Homo sapiens: one gene and its partners. The protein of the gene in region 2 interacts with the protein of the main gene of each other region in a biochemical or structural test. Each region holds a gene or a part of one and is shown on either strand. Other genes may lie near its edges. The genes, in order: TWIST2, SREBF1 and MED13.

What was found.
Region 1: the proteins of SREBF1 (region 2) and TWIST2 form a complex in vitro, tested with the Homo sapiens proteins (one study listed by BioGRID).
Region 3: the proteins of SREBF1 (region 2) and MED13 form a complex in vitro, tested with the Homo sapiens proteins (one study listed by BioGRID).

What each region holds. Positions count from the first base shown.
Region 1 is NC_000002.12:238,850,668-238,857,776, reverse strand, and holds part of TWIST2 (twist-related protein 2), read right to left. Parts: intron 6,714-7,109; exon of another isoform or gene 1-6,713. UniProt on the Homo sapiens protein: Binds to the E-box consensus sequence 5'-CANNTG-3' as a heterodimer and inhibits transcriptional activation by MYOD1, MYOG, MEF2A and MEF2C. Also represses expression of pro-inflammatory cytokines such as TNFA and IL1B.
Region 2 is NC_000017.11:17,819,982-17,827,090, forward strand, and holds part of SREBF1 (sterol regulatory element-binding protein 1), read right to left. Parts: intron 3,650-7,109; exon of another isoform or gene 3,627-3,649; coding exon of another isoform or gene 3,537-3,626; intron 541-3,536; coding exon 109-540; intron 1-108.
Region 3 is NC_000017.11:61,964,205-61,971,313, reverse strand, and holds part of MED13 (mediator of RNA polymerase II transcription subunit 13), read left to right. Parts: intron 1-3,055; coding exon 3,056-3,279; intron 3,280-4,662; coding exon 4,663-4,852; intron 4,853-5,845; coding exon 5,846-6,308; intron 6,309-7,109. UniProt on the Homo sapiens protein: Component of the Mediator complex, a coactivator involved in the regulated transcription of nearly all RNA polymerase II-dependent genes.

The DNA of each region.
Region 1 (7,109 bases), on a different chromosome or scaffold from region 2:
TTAGTAGAGATGGAGTTTCACTATGTTGGTCAGGCTGGTCTCGAACTCCTGGCCTCAGGTAATCCACCCACCTTGGCCTCCCAAAATGCTGGGATGACAGGCATGAGCCACTGCGCCCAGCCTCAATGTAATATTTTATTGCCGTTCAAAGAGCTCTGCTATTCAAGCAGAAGGATGCTTTACGAGACAGACAAGATGGTCGTTTGGCTTCTTTCAGCAAAGACAGGGCTGGTCCTGCTTCCTCTGCAAACCGCAGCAGTGGCCTGGCCTGATCGTCTCTTGGAAGCTGTCTTTAGATGAGCCAAGGCTTTCAAAGTGATATCTGACTGCAGGTTTAGATCTATCGCTATTAAATCCAGGGGGAGGAAATCAATGCTGAGTTACCACTTCCTTTCCTTAACCTTGGCAAATGCTGAGCCGTGCTGGGCTCATGCTCAGACATTCATCAGCACGAGCTGATAGGTGACTTGGGCCTTAGCGAAGATGGGCTCCAAGGCCCGTCCAGCCTCAGGGACCAGGGAAGTGCCAGGGTGGTGGGACAGCTACTTGCAAACAGCCAGCAGCGTCCTTCCTCTTGCTCCCCTCTTCCTCTCTCATGGGAGGGCCCGCCCGTCATGCAGGGGCACCATGCCCATGGTGCCCCTCCCCTGAACAGTCTCAGGCCAACCCAAGCTCCCTCCAGTGGTCCTTGACCCCAGGCACAGCAGATGGCCCCCTGACCACCTTCCTCTGGGGGCCTCTGCTTTCTCTGGCATCTGAATCACCTGCGATTGTCACAGGCCCCTCAGAGACACGGCCCCCTCTGGGGCTTCTTGGACACACTTTGCTGGGCAGTGTTGATGCCTGGGACCAAACAGGAAGGGAAGGCACCTGAGGTCCTCTTCAAGTGACTGTGTCTGCAGCGGCCTCCCTCGTGGCACTATTGCAGCAGTGTGGAGGGGCCCTGCTGGATTTTCACAGTGTTGTTTTTCTGAGAACGGCAGGAAGGGTGCTTTTTCTGAGAAACTGCTGTCTTCTATGTCTCTGAGGGACACTGAGGAAGAGGTGCCGGGTCTCCCATGGCCAGCAGCAGAGAGAGGCACACGGCCCCAACACAATCCTGAAGATAAATACAGAATGGGACCTATTCTTAAGAGACCTGAGTCCCTTCCGTAGCCCTGATCCCTTGTGAAATTCTTCATATATCACTTGACCTATTCACATCCTAACCTTCTCTTTTATTTTGTCCTTCATAAAAAAAAAACTTTTCCATGTTATAAATTATAAATGATAGACTAATGTACACAGGGTTGCTGGGGACGCACATGGAAATTACATTGTTCCACACTGAAATTACATGATATTATTCACTTGTGAACTGTAGTAAAACAAGAAAGGAGATGACATACAGCAACACTGAAACGAGCAGAGAGGTGAGTAACCGTGCTCATCTTTTGCCTGTTGTTTAATTAGAAGGAAATCTCTATTCTCAGAAAAAAATAGTCTGAAAGAAAGTTTTGGAATTAGCAATAATTTAACACCCAGTAAAATGCCCTTCAATTAATTCTACCCTTCCAATGCTGCCAGCTCGCATGGGCCACCTGGACCCTGCCTATTAACACCTTCGCAGTCACACAAGACGGGACCTCAAGATAAGCTCTCTCCTGACCCTACCTCGGGGGCCATAAAACGCCAGTCCTGGATGCACCCCCTCTGCCACAGCCACCGCACGGCCCCCAGGGAGTTTGGGGATCGTGGAAACAGGTCCTTCTGCACCAGAGAAATCAACAAAAACAGGGCACCCTGGGATTCTTAGGGTACAGATATCTGTTTGGAGCACTCCTGTTCTGGTATCAGTGAAACAATACTTTTAGAAAATAGTAACATGAGCCCACGAAGGAGAGGGAGTCGCCAAGCACACACTGAGGCGGGGGTGCTGAGCACACATCTATGGGCCGCACGAGGCTTCGGGAGCCCCTAGATGACCTTTGCTCAGAGGGTCCTCGGCCATTCTGTATTTACAGTCTGTATTTCCACGTGTGACTGAGCTATCACGGGACCTGATGGTGGGCTTCTCGTTCTTCCTCTATTACTTTTTTATAAAGTGAAACCTCAAGCGGACTTCAGTTAATCATGTTTTTAAAAGATGCTGTTTCAACTAAAGAATATAGAAGAGTATATGCAGGTTTGGGGGAAGCGGTAGGAAACACTTGCTGGAGAAGAAATGTTCACCAGACAGAAAACAAGGAATGCGAAATGATCACATCTTTCTCTCCTAGCTTCCCATCTACGCATGCAGATTATCATGAACGAGAGGAAAGCCAGGCGGCTGGGCATATGTTGAAGATGTTGACTAGTTAGAAACCAGTATATATGTAGTATGCAATTTGGGATTATTTGATTTCAGGAAAATTAATCCTCAATGAAGACACTGTTCGCCCATTGGTGTCAATGATGTGAACAGAGACGTGTAGATGCCCGATTTGAGAAAGAGGAGTATGCCTTCTCCTCCTTCCTTTCCCTTCCCTTCCAATTTGCGGTATTTTAGGCATTTCCCAAAGAAATGATAACTGCCTTATTCTGTTATGTATCAAGACAAAACAGTCTCCCTGAGACTGAGATTTAAAGTTCACACAAACTTTCCGGAAGGGACCCAGTCGGTATAGGTTTTGCCAACCCTGCAGGCTAGCTAGCTTGCGCTGCGCCTGTGCACTCTTCCGCCGAGCTAAAAGTCTGAGTTGTGGAAGTAAAGGACAAGTCGCAGGTCCAGGGAGTCCACGCAGGCAGCCAGCTTGCCACTCCGAGCCCTCTGAGCACCGGCCACACGAACCACTCAAAGAGCAGAGATGAAGGAAAGGAAACGGTACTTGTAGATCTCGTGATTCAAAGAAAACGCTGCCTGCTTGCATTTTCACATACAGAATATGCTAATTCAAAGTAGAACAGACAAAGAAAGCTGCCGTGGCAGCAGAGCCCGAGATTGTACATGACTGGCCTGTGCTTTCCTTTAGGAGGTTGTTCATGCTCCAAGCTGTCCCTCATGGAGCCCCTGCCTCGGAAGCGGGCCAAAATCTCTCCACCCTTCAGCAGGGGCATCTACTTACAGAGATTTAACAGAAATGCTAGGGTGGCATTTTGTCTGGATAGCGACAGAAAAACAGTAGTAACGACGAAAGTTTCAACATTTTTTTCTCCACGGGGAAGAGAGCAAAAGGATCTCTAACCCTCCCCTCTCACAGCAAAAGGCCAAAAAGTTGCCCTAACCCCTCCTGGGGGGAGCTGCTCTGCCTGGTGCTCCGGAAAGACTCTGCCTGTGACCACACCACAGACCTCAGCCACAGGGTGGGGTCTGATGTTTAGTCAAGGTCGAAGGGTTAATACAAATCAAGGGGTTTGCCCAAATCTTTCCCGTCAGTCGCACACCAGACCTGCACATCCAGAGACACAGAGGTGAACCGTCTGTCAAATTAGACAGTGAGAATTAGGACTCTAATGCCAGACCACATAACAAAATTTACCATTTCCTCCCAGAAGATACTGATGGCTATTTTTTTAAGGCAGAATGTGAACTAAAAAGACAGGAGTATTTTCCAGGATAATCGAATGTGATAACCGAAAGCTCTTCTGAGTTCAACCCTGTCTTTCATTTCAGTGAAGGGAAAATCTGAACTAAAGAAAGGAGAGATGTGTCCAAGTTTAAAGGCACTGCTCTTCGGGTCTGAGAAGTAAAACTATAGTTCTCCATGAGGCTTCGACAGAAGCTGGGTCATCTGAATCTTTCCCTGGTCAAATAACAGAGGAAAACAATATTAGGATAGAAAACCGCTCAGTGAGGGACAGCCCCGGTAGACAAGCAGACACTGCACTCAGCTCACGCAGCCGCGCTCTCTCATCTTCATCACCACAGGATCATCATATTATCACACCACAGTTGAGGATGAAATAGCCCAGATATCTGAAGCACGTCAGATACCGTTTGGGTTCAAAATGACTCTATTTTTAACTAAGCACTAAAACATTTTCCTCATGCTGGAATCAAGTTATGTGTTGGCTTTTCCAATTTCAGATCCAAGTCTCTTTTCGAAGTGACAACCATTAATAATCGCTGAAGAGAAATCACACTGTGCCTCAGTTTACAAGAGCTTAAAATTCACCTTGTTAATGCTACCGCCCTCATTTCCAAATCAGCATTCAGGTAAGGCATAGTTTAATATCACTCAATCTCATCCAAAGGGTTACTACCAAACAAAAACAGAAAATATGTTTCTAAACAATTATTCATTAAAAATAACTATAACTGGGCTTAGGGTTTGAGTTTCTCTCTCTCTCTCTCTCTCTCTCTCTCTCTCCATCTCTCCCTCTCTCCTTCTCTCTCTCCATCTCTCCCTCTCTCCCTCTCTCTCTCTCTCTCTCTCCCTCCCTCCTCTGCTATATCCTCTCCCTCTCACTGCTTATGGCTCCAAATACTAAAACTTCAATCTCTATACTTCTTGGCGAATAATTTTTATAAATCATTGGCTTTAGAATTGTGTGTGTATGCTTAATGAAAGTTAATATAAAATTAGTATCTTAAAAAGCAAATATAACACAGGTATCAGTTTAAGGTAGATATTTCCCAAAATTTTGTGTAAAATATTTTCTTTATTAGTATAGGAATAAATGTATTGCTATTATAATTGGTATTTCACCTTTCATATTTCTGGGATACTATTCTTTATTTAAGACTTACAGGGAACCACTTCTAATTAGTTATATATTGGAAATATATTGAGATTCCTCAAATGGCGTCAGAAAAAATATGTGGAGTTTTGCTCAAGTCACATTTTTAGTTTATTACTCTGAGATAAATCTTAGTAGTAATTTCTTAGATAATTTGCTTATCTAAATATATAGATTTAATACTTTTGTAGAATATCTTTTTTATTTTAATTTTGAGATAATTATAGATTCACATGAGGTTGCAAGAAATATTATACAGAGATTCTCATATCTTCACTCCCTTCTCCCAGTGATGACATCTTGCAATTATCATAATCAGGAAACTGGCGTCAATATCGTCCCCAGACCTCATTCAGATTTCACCAGTTTTACATACACTCGTGTGTACATGTGTGTGCACGTGCATGTGCGTGTGTGTGTGTGTGTTTAGTGCTATGCAATTTTATCACGTGTAGACTCAGGTGACCATGTGGAATATCTTTTTAATCAGTTTCTGTTTGTAGTGTTTCATCTTGCCTTTACGTTTGAAAGCATCCATGTCTGTATCTCTTAGATTCTGTTTCTCCTTTATGGTTTTCCAGTCCTTGGCTACAGTAACTTATTCATCTCTTCTTTGAATTTTATTGCCTCATTTGTGAACTCTCTGCTAGCGGAGAGTTCTGTATTTGGTTTGCTTTTTGCAGCACATTTATCCTTTCCCAGGAAAAGACACAAACATAAACAGACATTCCAGCATGCATTCACAGGGTTTTTAAAGACACCAGTGAGAATAGATTAATATAAATACTAAGCTTAAAAACCGTCATAAAAGTTCAGCCTTTAAAATTGGCTTATTAAAATATTTGTTTTTTTTAAAGCCCAGATTTAAACTAAAGTTATGAGTTATAGTGCTCTGCTCAGAAAGAGTTTACTTTATGTGTGTGGTGTTTTTTTTTCTTTTTTTAAATTTTTTTGCCAGGCAAAAGGAATCCGGCATCTGTGCCGTCTACCCAGAACAGAGTGAAGCAAGGATGACAAGAACATGGTTCAGCTCAAGATCTGTATGAAAATATGAGTTTCAGGAAACCTCAGTGAAGTATTCTATCTCAAATGGCCTCAAAGAGCCACTGAAGTCTGAGGAATTCCCTCTCCAGCAAGATGAGTAGCAAGACTTCCCTGATGCAAGGCCGAAAGGACTGCTGATATTTAAGGGGAAAGACCCACATTAACAGGTCAAATCCCTACATCAGATCTTATTGATGGGTATTTTGTAACCAAACATTGCTTATATTCCAGGGAGCTCAGCCTTTCATTCTACTTCTTCTAGGCAAGCAAAAGCTCCATTGGGATTCTGCATTTCTGTTCTTCTCCACGAAGAACTGATTTTCTAGCATCCTGAATACAGCAGTTAACAAACACCTATGAGAAGTAAATTTTCAGGAGGGAGGAAAAGGCTCACATATATTAGATGGTGAAGGGGTCATGCAATTTCTTCAAAGTAGCTAAAAGTTCTCAGAAAAAAAAAAGTTTGTTGAGTGAGGAAATCTACTGAAAATCTGTGCACACTATGCAGAAGTTAGAGAAGATGTTTTCTTTAACCACACAGCAGGGAACAGGACAAATGTCTGATAAGTAATGGTCACCTTCCCCCACCCTCCAAGCCAGGTGTCTGGGACCCTGCTCCGAAGACTCAGGCATTTAATGAGAATACTAAAAAAATCCTTTTGAGATTTTTCTATTAGATGAATCCAACTGACTGGACAAAGACACCTGATTTATTGTCTAATTGTGCTTTTAAATACCAGGCCAAAGAAGAAAGGCAGGATAGATATCGGCAGCACCCGCACTCCACCATCTCTTGCGTTTCTCTTCCTTTCAGAGGACAATTTAGGCTTTGTGCTGCTGTTGCTGTTAGTCTTGACAGTTTTCTTCACATACGTGAAAACATCCCACATCAAACATTAAAATCACTTACAATGTACTGAAATGTCTAGAGATTCTTTGCTGATGCATATAATTAATGCTTCTTAGAAATGCTACAAATAAAAACAAATGCTGTTTAGCAACATTTTCAGGAAATCAAACCAATTATAATCGTATTGATCTTATAGGGAATAATGAGTTAAAGACAAAAAGAATGACAAGATGTCTGCCTAACGTGCCTGATAAATAAAAACAAGGTGTGTCCAGAATCATTCATGGATAAAATTTTTCCATATTTCTTTTCTCTTCTTTTAGAGTATCTATTTAATGAAACTAGCTTGTTTGAACTACTCAGTTATAGTCCAGTATGTAAAAATAAAAATAAATAGGCTCCTTATAGATCATCAGCTCTCCCACTAACTGTGTAATTATCTATTATATTTTCAAGGGCTTTTTTCCAAACAAGCTCTTGGCACTGTTTTTATTTATTTATTACATGTATTGCATTT
Region 2 (7,109 bases):
AGTTTCTAAAGCCTGCACAGACCTCTACTCACATCACAGCAGAAGCTTCTTCCTGTGCTCCTGGAAGCCCCACCCCGGGTGTCCCCTCCCGCCACACATCCCCCTTACCTGTAGAGAAGCCTCCCGGAGGGCTGGGGTAGCCTAACACAGGGGTGGAGCTGAACTGCGGTGGGGCTGGGGCTGGGAAGCTCTGTGGCAGGAGGGCCCCTGGCAGGGGCTGTGGGGTGGGGGTCTGCAGGATGCTCAGTGGCACTGACTCTTCCTTGATACCAGGCCCAGGGGAGAAAGCGGGCATGGACGGGTACATCTTCAATGGAGTGGGTGCAGGCTGGGGAGGGGACAGGGGTGAGGGCGCTGCCTGCGGCCCGCTCAGGAAGGCTTCAAGAGAGGAGCTCAATGTGGCAGGAGGTGGAGACAAGCTGCCTGGGGAGCTGGTATCGGGGCTGGCAGGGTCTGTGCCCCCTGCCCCACTCCCAGCATAGGGTGGGTCAAATAGGCCAGGGAAGTCACTGTCTTGGTTGTTGATAAGCTGAAGCATGTCTGTGAAAAGGAGAAGAGGGTGCGTGAGTGAGGCAGAGACTGACCCCCAAACAGGGCATCACACACATCCAAACACAACCTTATTTGCACAACCCTTGTTGGCACACAGCTGTATGTGTGGGCAATGCCACCAGGACAGAAAGCCACCCACAGGAGCTGGTGTTCCCGGACATACAGCCATTTTGCGAGCACCTGTGCTGTCTAAAGCAATGCCTGCTGCTGCGAGTGCATCACAATACCTGGACAAGGTGGGCACCACAAGGCTCACAATCTTGCCCCACAGCTAGGCTGGGGCTGAGCCCAGGGTCGGGCCCAAGACTGCAGACTTCAGAGCCTGAGCTCTTCCCACCATCCGGTATTTGCCCAAACATCTAGAAACATCCTTAGTCCACAGCAAACAGCAGGCTCACATTCATTCACTCATCCAGTGAGCATGTGCTGAGTGCTGAGTGCCCACACTATGCCAGGCACTGCTCCCGGCTGTGAATAAGGGAAATCCCTGCCTAGAACTAAGCAACTTTCTGGGGAGCTGGGAGTGTCCTGTAGCTTGATGTGGATGGTGGTAAACTTTTACTCCTGTCTTCATGGGGCATGCATTCTACAAGACATCCACCTCTGAGTCCACACACATACACACACACACACACACACACATACACACTGCACCGTGGACTCAGACCAGCTTCCAAGCATTTGCCCATGAGGTGACCAACCCTTCCAGACAGCTCTCCTGCCCTCTCCACAGTCCATCACCCCCAACCCCACACAGAACAAAAGGAATCCAGAGGCCCAGGTGCAGCCTTCCCTGGCTCCACTTGGGGCCTGTTTCTCAATGTGTGAAACGGGGGGCACGCCTCCATCCACAGATCCAGCAGCTCCAGTCTTTGGGATGGAGATGGGGATGGGGAGGGAGGAGCAGTCTAGGGCAGAGGGGGTCTTCATATAGGAGCGATGGGCCCCACACCCCACCATTGGCCACTCCTGGTCTCATCCTAAAACGCACCCCCAGCAGGATCCTCTGGGCACTGAATTTGACAAAGCAACTTAGAAACTGCTGAGGAGTGGGTGATTTTCCCCTCCCCTCAGTTTACAGGGGGAAGAGGGGTGCAGAGAGAGGCAGGATTGCCTTGAGGCCCTGAAGAAGTGGTGGGATCCTCTGTGACCAAGGACCAACTGTGCAGCCTGGGCCCACTCTTCCTAGGGCAGCGCAGGATCCCCAAAGAGAATGGCAGACAGGGAAGTCCCCCAAGAGGACCCCAGATCAGAGCAGGGTCCTCATCCACACTAGAAGGACTCTAAGGGTGGGGGCCCATGTCAGAAGGGTGGGTCTGGTCCAAAAGCCAGGCCCGCTGTGGGGCTACCCACATTGATGGGGCCAGGCTAGACCCCTAATCCTCACCCACAGCTGAGAGGGTGATGTGATCATTGGCCCCATTCTACACGTGAAGAAACTGAGCTGTAGAGAGGTGACTTACTGGCCTAAGTTCTTATAGAGTCAGAGACTCAACTGAGTCCAGACCCTATTTTGACTCCAATGCCCCAACCACTGGCCACTACCCTAGACTACCTCAAAAGATTAGCTCACCTCATCTTGGAGACAAGAAAAGACACTGAGGCTCAGGGAGGACCACAAGCAGCCCAAGAGCATGCAGTGGGGTTCAAACCCAGGTCTACAAAATCCCAAATCTATTGTCTCTCTGCCTTTTCTTGCCCCACTAAGAAGCCAAGAGCCAGGCTGCCATCACCAACCCATTACTCAGTGGAACAGACCAAGGCTTAGGGCCAAGCCAGCTGCTGGCCACATGGCCAACCAGTGTGTCTCTGTGTAGAGTTCTGGGCTCAAGTCCAGGCTTTGCCTGCAGCCAAGTAGCCTCAAGACCCAGGCCTGGCCACTCAGGGCTTTGATTTCATCTCTGTAAAAGCAAGTGCTGTCTGTCCTGACTCCTTCCTCCTCATACAGACTGGGACACACTCCCACCTCAGCCCCACCTGGCCAAGGGCCCTCTCCCCCAGCTGGTGACTAGCAGCCTATCTGGCTCAGCCCAGGGCCCTCTAACCCACTCGTGGTGGCACCCACTGGGTCAGAATGCTCTACAGGACCCATGGGGGCCTCCAGTGCTCTCAGGATCCCCAGCCTGAGCTCCCAGCCCTGCCCACCACCAGCTTGAAGTGGAGCCTGGACCAACAGCCTCCTCTCACTGGCCCCAGTTTCCTCATCTGTACAACAGAAAAGACTAAACCCCTTTTGGTACGGCTGCCCGAGGCTTTGCTTGGCAGGCAGCTGGCACCGAGTGGAGACCCAACATTGCCTACTGACAGGTACCCAGGCAGGGAAGCTACTGCAGGAGGGGAATTTCCTAGAGCAGTTGGCAGAACAGGATGGGGTGGCAGCCCCAGTCTTCCTGGCTTCTCAAGTAGAAACTCTCCTGGTTTGTGGACCCCCCAGGTCACAAGTCATCAAGTCATAATGGACTTTCAACTGCAGGGTTTCCCATCCCTTTACCCCAGTCCGTGTGAGCCTCTTCGATAGATGGGGGAAACTGAGGCCTGAAAGAAAAACTGACAATTTTGACAATCTAGGGCTCCCACTGTCTTCCTGAAAAGTCTAAGATGCCCACAATAGGCAGGGGTGCTGAATAGGGCAGACGCTGTGGCAGAGGGACAACGGGCCCTCCTCCCTGCTTCCTCCTGGTCCTGTCCCAAAGCGGGTGCAGAGAATGTAGAGAAGACCACCCTCTCCCTCCAAACCCTCTTAGGTCGGGATGCTGCTTTTGGGTCTCTAAGCAAACCCTTCCCCCTTGAGTTGCAGGGGACACTAATTTGGTTGGAGGTAGCCCTCCACTTCCCCAGCGAGCTGGTAACTGTCACACCTTCTCCCTCGGGAAGGGGCTCTTTCCTGCTCAAGTTGCGTAGCCCGCATGCCCGCCCACCCCAGGAGAACCTGCAGGAGACGGAGGCATTGTATAAAGGGCTGGTGGGGAGGCCTCCAAAAATACCTTCGAAAGTGCAATCCATGGCTCCGCGATCTGCGCCCGCCCTTGGGGCGTCCAGGCCGTTGGCCCTACCCCTCCCCGCGCCGACTTCACCTGTCAAGGCGCGGCGGATTTTTGAAGCCGTTGAGCGCTGCGGCGCGCCCGCCCCGCCCCGCCCCGCCCCCAGCCCCGCCCCAGCCCCGCCCCGCCTGCAGGTCCCGCCCCGCCCCGCCCTTCGGGGCTGCGGGCCGGGCATGGGGTGAGCGCGCGCGGCCAATCAGCGGCCGCGCTGCCGCCTCGCTAGGGCCCGGCCCCGGCCCCCGCCCCACCTCCCCACGGCGGCGGGGGCTCGAGTTTCACCCCGCGGCGCTGAATGGGGTTGGGGTTACTAGCGGACGTCCGCCTTTAACCCGCTCGGTGCCAGCGTCTGCCGGGGTTACTGGCGGTCACTGGCCCTCAGCTCCCGCCCCCTTCGTTAAAGGGTCAAAGCAGAGAAGTCCTGGCCCAACACACCAGAACTCTGTGTTCGAAATCACTGGTTCGCTGGCACCCTGAGCGAGCCTTAACCGCTCCAACCCTCCGTTTACTCCTCCAGAAAACAGGACAGTCATTATCTCCCTGGCGTCGAATGGTAGAAGGGAGATAATATGGGTGCAGCACTTAGTACGCAAGAAGCGTTTAATTAAGGCCAAGGGCTGCCGAGTGGCAGCTGCGGTGGGTGCAGGGACCTCCCCCTTCTAGGGCAGCCCCAGGAAGGGGCCACCCCTCACCACAGCGGGGCTGATGGTCTGGGATGAGGCCACTCCTGAAAACAGGTCACTTCCGGGAAACTGAGGCCTGGAAATAAGGGTTTCCTGACTGCCAGCACCGATGTCCCTCTGCCAGATGGGTGAAGTCTGCCCCTCCCCCTCAAGGCCTCACAACCCAGCAGTCACCAAGTGAGTCCCGACCCACTATTCATTGTAGGGCCCTGGGAAGCCAGGAAGGGCTGCAGTCCCTAGGACAGAAGATGGGTAAGGAAGGGGTGACAGGCTCTAGGGTTCTTTTGAGGAGGTGCCTGGGCCTGTCTTCCCTCTTTTGTCAAAGGTAAAAGTTACACACACACACACACACAAAGTGATCAGAGCCTGGCCAGTTGATTTTGCAGCCAAGTAGACCACCAGCAAAGCCTGCCTCTGCCCCAAACTGCAGGCCAGCGCCTCTGCCTGGTCCACACCCCAGTTGGCTGCAACCTGAGAGGGTGCCTGAACCCTGGGCAGACCCAGCGACTCAGCAGTCCATTGGGGGCTGGGGTCCCTGCGGCCTCAACCTTGCTCTCTATTCAGGACCCTAAGCAAGAAAACCCAGCCATGTCTCTCTCGCAACCTGTCCTCGCCACCGCCGTCCAGCCCAGGCCCTTATTTCCCAGCTTTGGGAGGTTCAAGGACAACAGACGGCCTCTCTAGCATGGCCCAACCCTCCCCTCAGCCCGCGGGTGTTCCCTCACCCCCAAAACAAAACACAGCATTGCTCTTGGCAAAGGCTCTGACATGAGTGACTTAAGACAGGGAAGCGTCCTTGACCCAAAAGCACACTGAGAGCTGAACTCCAGGCATGAGTTCCCCATGGCCTCCCAGCCTGGTTCTTTCATTACTTTGCTCCCCAGTTTCTGAGCCTAGAATGTGGTGAGACCAACAAGCAGATACTAGCCTGAGACAGCAGGGCCAGGGCCACTGTGAACAGTCAAGCCTGTCCCCTCCCCTTACCCATCTTGGCTTTACCACATATTCCTGCCTCTTATTGTGTCTTTATTTGTCTCATCTTCCTGCTCTAACCCCCTCCCATCCCACTGAGGAAGCGCGATGGGAGAGGGCGGTTGCTCTCTGAGCCCCAGGGGCAGCAGAGTCATTAAAGACTCTGATGGGGGTGGGGCGGGGGGGGCCTTCCAAGAGGAGGGGGTGTGACCTGGGAACAGAGGGCTGGCCCTTGGGCAGAGGGCACAGACTAAGCTAAGATGCCCCGAGGAAGGGGGAAGGGCCTGGGTGCCACTGGCCATGGCCAGCCTCTGAAACTCAAGGCCTGGCCAAACCCTGGCTCACTCTCCCCTGGGGCTGATCTACTGGCCAATTTCTTTTTTTTTTTTTTTTTTTTTTGAGACAGAGTCTGGCTCTGTCACCCAGGCTGGAGTGCAGTGACACGATCTCAGCTCACTGCAACCTCTACCTCCCGGGTTCAAGTGACTCTCCTGCCTCAGCCTCCTGAGTAGCTGGGATTACAGGTGTGCGCCACCACACCTGTAATGAAATGTAATTTTTGTATTTTTAGTAGAGACAGGGTTTCACCACGTTGGCCAGGCTGGTCTCGAACTCCTGACCTCAGGTGATCCTCCCACCTCGGCCTCCCAATGTGTTGCGATTACAGGCATGAGTCACCGTGCCAATTTCTGTGGAAGCTGGTCACCAGGTTAAGACTGAAAAAGGAAACTCTAGAGCCAGCCCTGCAGCCTCCCTCAGAGACACACCCAAGTGGGCTATCTGGGGCTGCATGCCAGGCCCTGCTCTTCCTTTAGCCCCTCCCTTGCTGTGTGATGGGGACAGTCCACTCCCCACCCTCTGAGCTCCCACACCTACGATCTCCAGAGGTGGGAATTCTGGGAAAGCAAGTGTGTAAAACATCCATCACTCAACAGTCTCAACAAAGGTTAGTTCTCTCTACAGCAATTAGAATGGTTTAGAACTGGAAAGTCAGGTAGTGAGTTGCCTGATACTTGCAGTATTCACGTTGGAGCTCCATTACCATTCGACTGAGTCTTTTTTTTTTTTTTTTTAAGGGGAGTTAACGGGGCCAGTCTAGAGTAAGGCAGCTGAGGCACCTTGGGTGCACAATTTAAGGAAGAGCCTCTCTTGCCTCCCCTAGTCCCTGTCCTGGAAGCTGGGAGAGCTGGTCTCTAGGGGCTCACTGTGGCACCCAAATTGCGGCCCACCCATGGGTGAACCGGGCTTCCCTATGAACACTGAGAAGGCCCTTGTGGTTCCCACACACACTCTGAACACAGGAAGGAAGAGGAGGCATAGACTCTGGGCCATGGTGGCCCCAACTGCTCCCTAGTTCACCTTCCCCAGGCTTGTGAAGCCCTGCCACCCCTCCCCAAGCCTGGGTTCCTCCTCTTCCCTCTTCTTCTTCCTCTCCTGCCCTGATTCTATCAGGACCCAACAGGAAACCTGAACCCCCACCTGGCATCCCTCCCCAGTTCTACCTTCAAACCTCTCTCTGAAGGCAGATGCAGGCGCCCTTTAATGACTCTGGCCGATGTATTCTGTGAGGCCATGAGGGAAATCCTGGGCAGGCCTCATGGCATGCGCTTGTAGGGCCCAACGCTGACCAGCACAGAAGCCTACAACCCAAACAAGGCCTTGAACCCCAAACAACCTCCTGGAAGAGGGAGCTCTTCACCTGCCCCCACAGCCTTGTCCACAGAACCCAGATCCATCTCTGACAATATCTACTGTGTGCCAATCCTGTGCCAGGCACTGGGGCCATTATAGATGAGGTGGTCAGGGCAGCCCATCTTAGGAGGTGACATCTGAAAGGAGGACTGAATGATATGAGGGAGTGGGC
Region 3 (7,109 bases), about 44 Mb from region 2:
CAAAAGCGAAACTCCATCTCAAAAAAAAAAAAAAAAAAGTAGATATTTATTTATTTATTTCTGTACCTTAACTGATTTTGGAGATCATTTCTATCTGCACATATAGAGATTATCTTTTTTTATGGCTATATGTATTCCATTGTTCCTTACATATGATAATATATTTTACCAGTGCAGTGTTTATGAACATACAAATTGTTACCACCATTATCATTACAGCTACTTTTCAGTAATGCACAGATCCCTGGCTTTAAAGCATGGGTGTATTTTTATTTTATTTATTATTATTATTTTTGAGATTTGTTCTGTCACCCTGGCTGGAGTACAGTGGCACAATCATGGCTCACTGCAGCCATAACCTCCTGGGTCCAAGTGATCCTCTCACCTCAGCCTGCCAAGTAGCTGGTACTACAGGTGCTCACCACCACACCCAGCTAATTTTTGTATATTTTGTAGAGATGAGGTTTTGCCATGTTGCCCAGGCTGGTCTCCAACTCCTGGGCCCTAGTGATCTGCCCAACTCACCCTCCCAAAGGGCTAGGATTATAAGCACCCAGACGTGTATTTCAAGAAAAAAAAAAAAAAAACCTAAATAACTATCTGTAATGCCTTTTTTTTTTTTTTTTTTTTTTTTGAGACAGTCTCACTCTCTTGCCCAGACTGGAGTGCAGTGGCATGATCTTAGCTCACTGCACCCTCTGCCTCCCAGGTTCAAGCAGTTCTCATGCATCAGCCTCACGAGTAGCTGGGATTACAGGCATGCATTAACCACACCTGGCTAATTTTTGTATTTTTACTAGAGATGGGATTTTGCCATCTTGCCCAGTCTGTTCTTGAACTGCTTGCCTCAAGTGATCCACCTACCTAGGCCTCCCAAAGTGCTGAGATTACAGGCGTGAGCCACCATGCCCAGCCCCTGTAATATCAGTTTGAATTCCCACCAGTTAAAGTGCCTGTTTTCCCAAAGCCTTGCCTAGTAGGATGCTGATTCAGTGGATGAAAAATGGTTATTTCCCATTATAGTTTGAGAGATTAAATAGTACAGACTGTGGGGATAGATTTCTTGGGTTTAAATTCCTACTCTGCTACTTCTTGTGAAATGCTAGAGAAATTGCTTAACTTCCTCATTTATGTTTTCTCATCTCTAAAATGAAGTTAATAATAGTTTCTGCCTTATGTTTTTTGTGAGGATTAAATGAGTTAGTACATGCAAAGAGCTTTGAACAGTACCTAGCACATAGAATTATCATTGTTTGCTATTATTAATTTTAAATTGCTTTTTTAATGAGAAAGAGCATCTTTTTATGTGTTAGAGATAGTTTTGTTTTGTAATCTCCATGTTCTTAACCCATTTTTCTATTAGGTTGTTGGTCATTTTCTTTTAAAAATTTTTTTATTATGGTAAGAACACTCACCAGGCATGACGACTCACGCCTGTAATCCCAGCACTTTGGGAGGCCGAGGTGGGCAGATCACTTGAGGTCAGGAGTTTGAAACCAGCCTGGCCAACATGGTGAAACCCCATCTCTACCAAAAATTCAAAAATTATCCCGGTATGGTGATGTGTGCCTATAATCCCAGCTACTCAGGAGGCTGAGGTGAGATAATTGCTTGAACCCAGGAGGTGGAGGTTGGAGTGAGTGGAGATCGCACCACTGCACTGCAGCCTAGGCAACAGAGCAAGACTGTCTCAAAAACAAAACAAAAAAAAACTAAAAGAAAGAACACTTAACATGAGATCTGCGCTCTTAGTAAGGTTTTTTCTTTTTTCTATTTTTTAAATTATATTATTTTTAAATGTATAAATAAGGATGGTGTCTCACTATGTTGCCTAGGCCTCAAACTCCTGGGCTCAAGTAATCCTCCCACCTCAGTCTCCCAAGGTGCTGAGATTACAGGCATGAGCCACAGCACCTGGCCTACAGTGTATTTTTATGCCAATTTTTTGTTTGTTTGTTTTTGAGATGGAGTTTTGCTCTTTTTGCCTGGGCTGACGTGCACTGGTGCAATCTCAGCTCACCGCAACCTCCACCCCCTGGGTTCAAGCAATTCTGCTTCAGCCTCCTGAGTAGCTGGGATTACAGGCATGCACCACCATGCCCGGCTAATTTTGTATTTTTAATAGAGACAGGCTTTCTCCATGTTGGTCAGGCTGGTCTTAAACTCCCAGCCTCAGGTGATCTGCCCACCTCGGCCTCCCAAAGTGCTGAAATTACAGGTGTGAGCCACTGCACCCAGCCCCATGCCAAAAATTTAAATGCAGACCAGACGTGGTGGCTCCTGCACGTAATCCCAGCACTTTGGGAGGCTGAGGAAGGAGGATCACTTGAGCTCAGGAGTTTGAGTCCACCCTGGGCAACACAGCAAGATCCCATCTCTACAAAAACTTTAAAAATTAGCTAAGCATAGTGGCACACACCTGTAGTCCCAGCTATTCGGGAAGCTGAGGACAGAGGATTGCTTGAGCCCAGCAGGTTAATGCTGCAGTAAGGCGTGATTGTTCCACTGCAGTCTAATCTGGGCAATAGAGCAAGACCCTGTCTCAAAAAAATAAGTAAATAAAAAGACTTGTTTAGGAAATTCCTTAATGTTGAAAAGTCTTGACCACTGGCATTAAGTATTTTTGTCTCTAATAAAATATTTTCACTAATAATGACTTCATTAACTTTTGACATTTAAATAAAAAGGAGGCCGGGCATGGTGGCTCACACCTGTAATCCCAGCACTTTGGGAGGCCGAGGTGGGCGGACACAAGGTCAGGAGCTCGAGACCATCCTGGCTAACACGGTGAAACCTCGTCTCTACTAAAAAATACAAAAAATTAGCCAGGCGTGGTGGCAGGCACTTGCAGTCCCAGCTACTCAGGAGGCTGAGGCAGGAAAATGGCGTGAACGCGGGAGGCGGAGCTTGCAGTGAGCCGAGATGGCGCCACTGCACTCCAGTCTGGGCGACAGAGCGAGACTCTGTCTCAAAAAATAAATAAATAAATAAATAAATAAAAAGGAGACATGTCTTGTTTTTAAGTGTTTTCTTAAAATACATCTTTCTTATTTAGGAACTGATGAATCCCCAGAACCACTGCCAATCCCCACATTTTTGTTGGGTTATGATTATGATTATCTGGTGCTTTCTCCATTTGCTCTTCCTTATTGGGAGAGACTTATGCTGGAACCCTATGGATCTCAAAGAGATATAGCCTATGTTGTACTGTGTCCAGAAAATGAAGCCTTGTTAAATGGAGCAAAAAGCTTTTTTAGAGATCTTACTGCAATATATGAGGTAGGTGTTTAAAAAGAGATGACATTTTAAAACTACCTTACGATTTGTATTGTTGTATATACAGCATACTGGGCAGTTCAGTTGATTGGGACACAGTGATGATGTCAGATTAGATGTTTATTTCTCATACTAGCCAGTTACATTCTTTGCTGAGTTTGACCCAGTCTGTTAGATGTGTATGCCGTGGGTCAGAGTGGCTATCCCCCTATAGGAGGAAGAAACATTGAGGGCATATAGATATATATCCCTTTTAATGTGGCTTTTTCTAAAACAAAGGGTAACAATGTTAAATAGCCAGGAAAAAAGTTACATTTACAAAAATTCTAGTCTTTATTCTCTAGGATTTCAGGTAGTGACACTAGGCCTCACTTTCCTCATATGTAAAATAAATCTATGCTAGATATCACTAAGGTCCATTTCAGGTCTGAAATTCTTGCCTCTTCTTTTAAGTTATAATTCTCACATATCCATCACCAGGCGCAATAATTGTAAATTATAAGTGTTATGGGACATAAAGTCTTACTTTATTATTCCCTCCTTTTTCCACAAAGGCTTCGAAATTTAGTCTTTAAATTTTGATTCCTTATACAATCTGAATGTTAGTGTATGTTAGTTTAGCTTCCTTTTAAAATTTTCCACATAATTACAAGGTATTTGTAGTGTGTTTTTAATAAATAAACATTTCCCAAAGGGTGTTATTTGGAATATCAGTCCGGTAAAATCCTCTCAGAGAAAAAGTTCCATAGTTAAATAGGCTTGGGGAAACATTGTATATTATATTACCTTTTAGAGATTTACAATTCATATTAGGTTTTTAAAGGCTTTGAAATTCTTACAGTAAAGAACTCTTCTAAGTTTGCTTAATCCAATGTTTTAAATTTATTTAACATTGGGCTTCTAATAACAAAAATCAGTGACTCACAGAACTAGAGGGAGAAGGTGTATAAATATATTTGTATAACAATTTTTATTTTGCTTTGATTTAGGGATATTTGTATTCATAATTCATGAATTGGTGTTAATGTATACCTAAAATGACTGCATTTTTATGCTCACTTATGTCTGCATTCTGCAAGCTTTTATTCAAACAAAATGGTTCTAGTACTATTGTTATCTAGGTGTTTTTTCATTAGAGATATTTTAATTTTGAAAAAAAATTAATGAATTTCTAATGTAAAAATGAAAAAGACCTATGGCACCATTTCACCCTTGATATGTTTATTTTTTTGGCCTACTTCTAAAAACACCCTTGATATTTTTATCATAACTGTTAATTGCAAATGGTTAAGCTTATTTTAAGTAGCTTTCATGGTTGGTTTTATAATGTGTATCTAAATACAATAATAAATTTACTAATTCTGCTTTCTGTATGTATATTTGTAGTCCTGTCGATTAGGTCAACATAGACCTGTTTCTCGACTGTTAACAGATGGGATCATGAGAGTTGGATCTACTGCATCAAAGAAACTATCAGAAAAGTTGGTAGCAGAATGGTTTTCTCAGGCAGCTGACGGTAACAATGAAGCATTTTCTAAACTCAAGCTTTATGCACAAGTCTGCAGATATGACCTAGGTATTGAATTTGTATTTATTGTATAAGGCTGGTGTTAGCAAAATGTGGCCTGCTCCACCAGCTGTTTTTGTAGATAAAATTTTATTGGAACACAGCCATCCTCATTTATGTATTTTCTCTGGCTGCTTTTGTGCTACAACATTGGAGCTGAGTAGTTTTCATAGAGACTGTGTGGCTGCAAAGACAAAAATATTTATTATCTGACCCTTTACAGAACAAGTTTGCTGATCCCTAATGAGGGATCCCATCAGGTAGGAAGAAATTATGGGTTATAAATAAATTTTCTGTTGCCTCTGTAGGGTCTGATGTTTTAATAACTTGAAGATTCTTCATTTGTTACAGTTTAGAGATAAAATAATTTATAGTTAATCTCTACCAAACCAAGAAATAGTTCTTTGTTGTAGCTAAGAAAACGACAGCTGTTTAAGACTTGCTTGTTACATACTTTTTTTCTTTCATTCTACCCGTGCCTAACTGTATTGCTTATAAATACTCTTGAAAATAAAGATCAGTGGACTTCCTTTAGACTTAATCCAAAGAGATGCAGAACCAAAATATTGAATCTCATTAGACATTCCTATAATTTGAACCCCATAACATTATACCATTTTATATTTTAATTAGCTGTCAATGTAGTCAATATTTATTTGATTTGTGATTTAGAAACCCTTTGAATAGTTTGATGAATATTGCTAGATACCTTTTTTACATTTAATTATACTTAGAAAATAGAATTTTGTTACACTTTCATAGTAATCATTTCTTTAATTTTGAGTGAAAATTCTGGCTTTTTCAATTCCATTTTAAATATGTTTCTTCAGTCTCTAGGGGAAAATAGAAAGCAAGTGTAGGTCACACCATTAGCAAGCAATTTCGGGGCTATAATTACCAAGAAAACATCAACTGGATTATGATTCTGTTTACACAGTAGAATTTAAAAAAACCAGTCAGTGAAATAAAGAATTAAATTTCGTACCTGTTTTTATTCTTTAGGTCCTTATCTTGCTTCCCTGCCATTGGACAGCTCTCTACTTTCCCAGCCAAATTTAGTTGCCCCTACAAGTCAGTCTTTGATTACTCCACCTCAGATGACAAATACTGGAAATGCTAATACTCCATCTGCCACCTTAGCATCTGCAGCGAGCAGCACTATGACAGTGACTTCAGGTGTTGCCATATCTACTTCAGTTGCCACAGCTAATTCAACTTTGACCACAGCTTCAACTTCATCTTCATCATCCTCCAACTTGAATAGTGGAGTATCATCAAATAAACTACCTTCGTTTCCACCCTTTGGCAGTATGAACAGTAATGCTGCAGGATCCATGTCTACACAAGCAAATACAGTTCAGAGTGGTCAGCTAGGAGGGCAACAGACATCAGCTCTACAGACAGCTGGGATTTCTGGAGAATCATCTTCACTTCCCACTCAGCCGCATCCTGATGTGTCTGAAAGGTACCTTTAAAAATACTGATTTTTGCAGAAATATAAAAACTATGATGCTGCTTCTTTCTTTTTTTTTCTTGAGACACAGTCTCACTCTTTTGCGCAGGCTGTACTGCAGTGGTGGGATCTGCACTCACTGCAACCTCTGCCTCCCGAGTTCAAGTGATTCTCCTCCCTCAGCCTCCCTAGTAGCTGGAATTACAGGCATGTGCCACCACGCCTGGCTAATTTTTGTATTTTTAGTAGAGACAGGGTTTTGCCATGTTGACCAGGCTGGTCTCAAACTTCTGACCTCAGGTGATCCACCCACCATGGCTTCCCAAAGTGCTGGGATTACAGACGTGAGCCACCACGCCCAGCCATGCTGCTTTTTTTCTAAATAAGACGTTTTGAATGAGCATAAAGTGCTTTTTTATCTTAGTCTTGAAATTTTAGTTTGTATCTTTTTTTAAGACAAGGTCTCACTCTGTCACCCAGGCTGGAGTATAGTGGCGTGATCACGGCTCACTGCAGCCTCGACCTCCTGGGCTCAGGTGATCCTCCCACCTCAGCCTCCTGAGTAGCTGGGACTTACAGGCATGCACCACCATGCCCAGCTACTTTTTTGTAGAGATGTGGTTTCACCCTGTTGCCCTGGCTGGTCTGGAACTCTTGGACTCAGCAATCTGCCTGCCTCAGCCTCCCAAAGTGCTGGGATTACAGGCATGAGCTATCGCACCCGGCCTAGTGTTGAATATTTTATGTATAAAATTATAATGAGGACTTTACTTCATAAAGTATCATAGAATTCTAGAATCTGAGGGTGGGAAT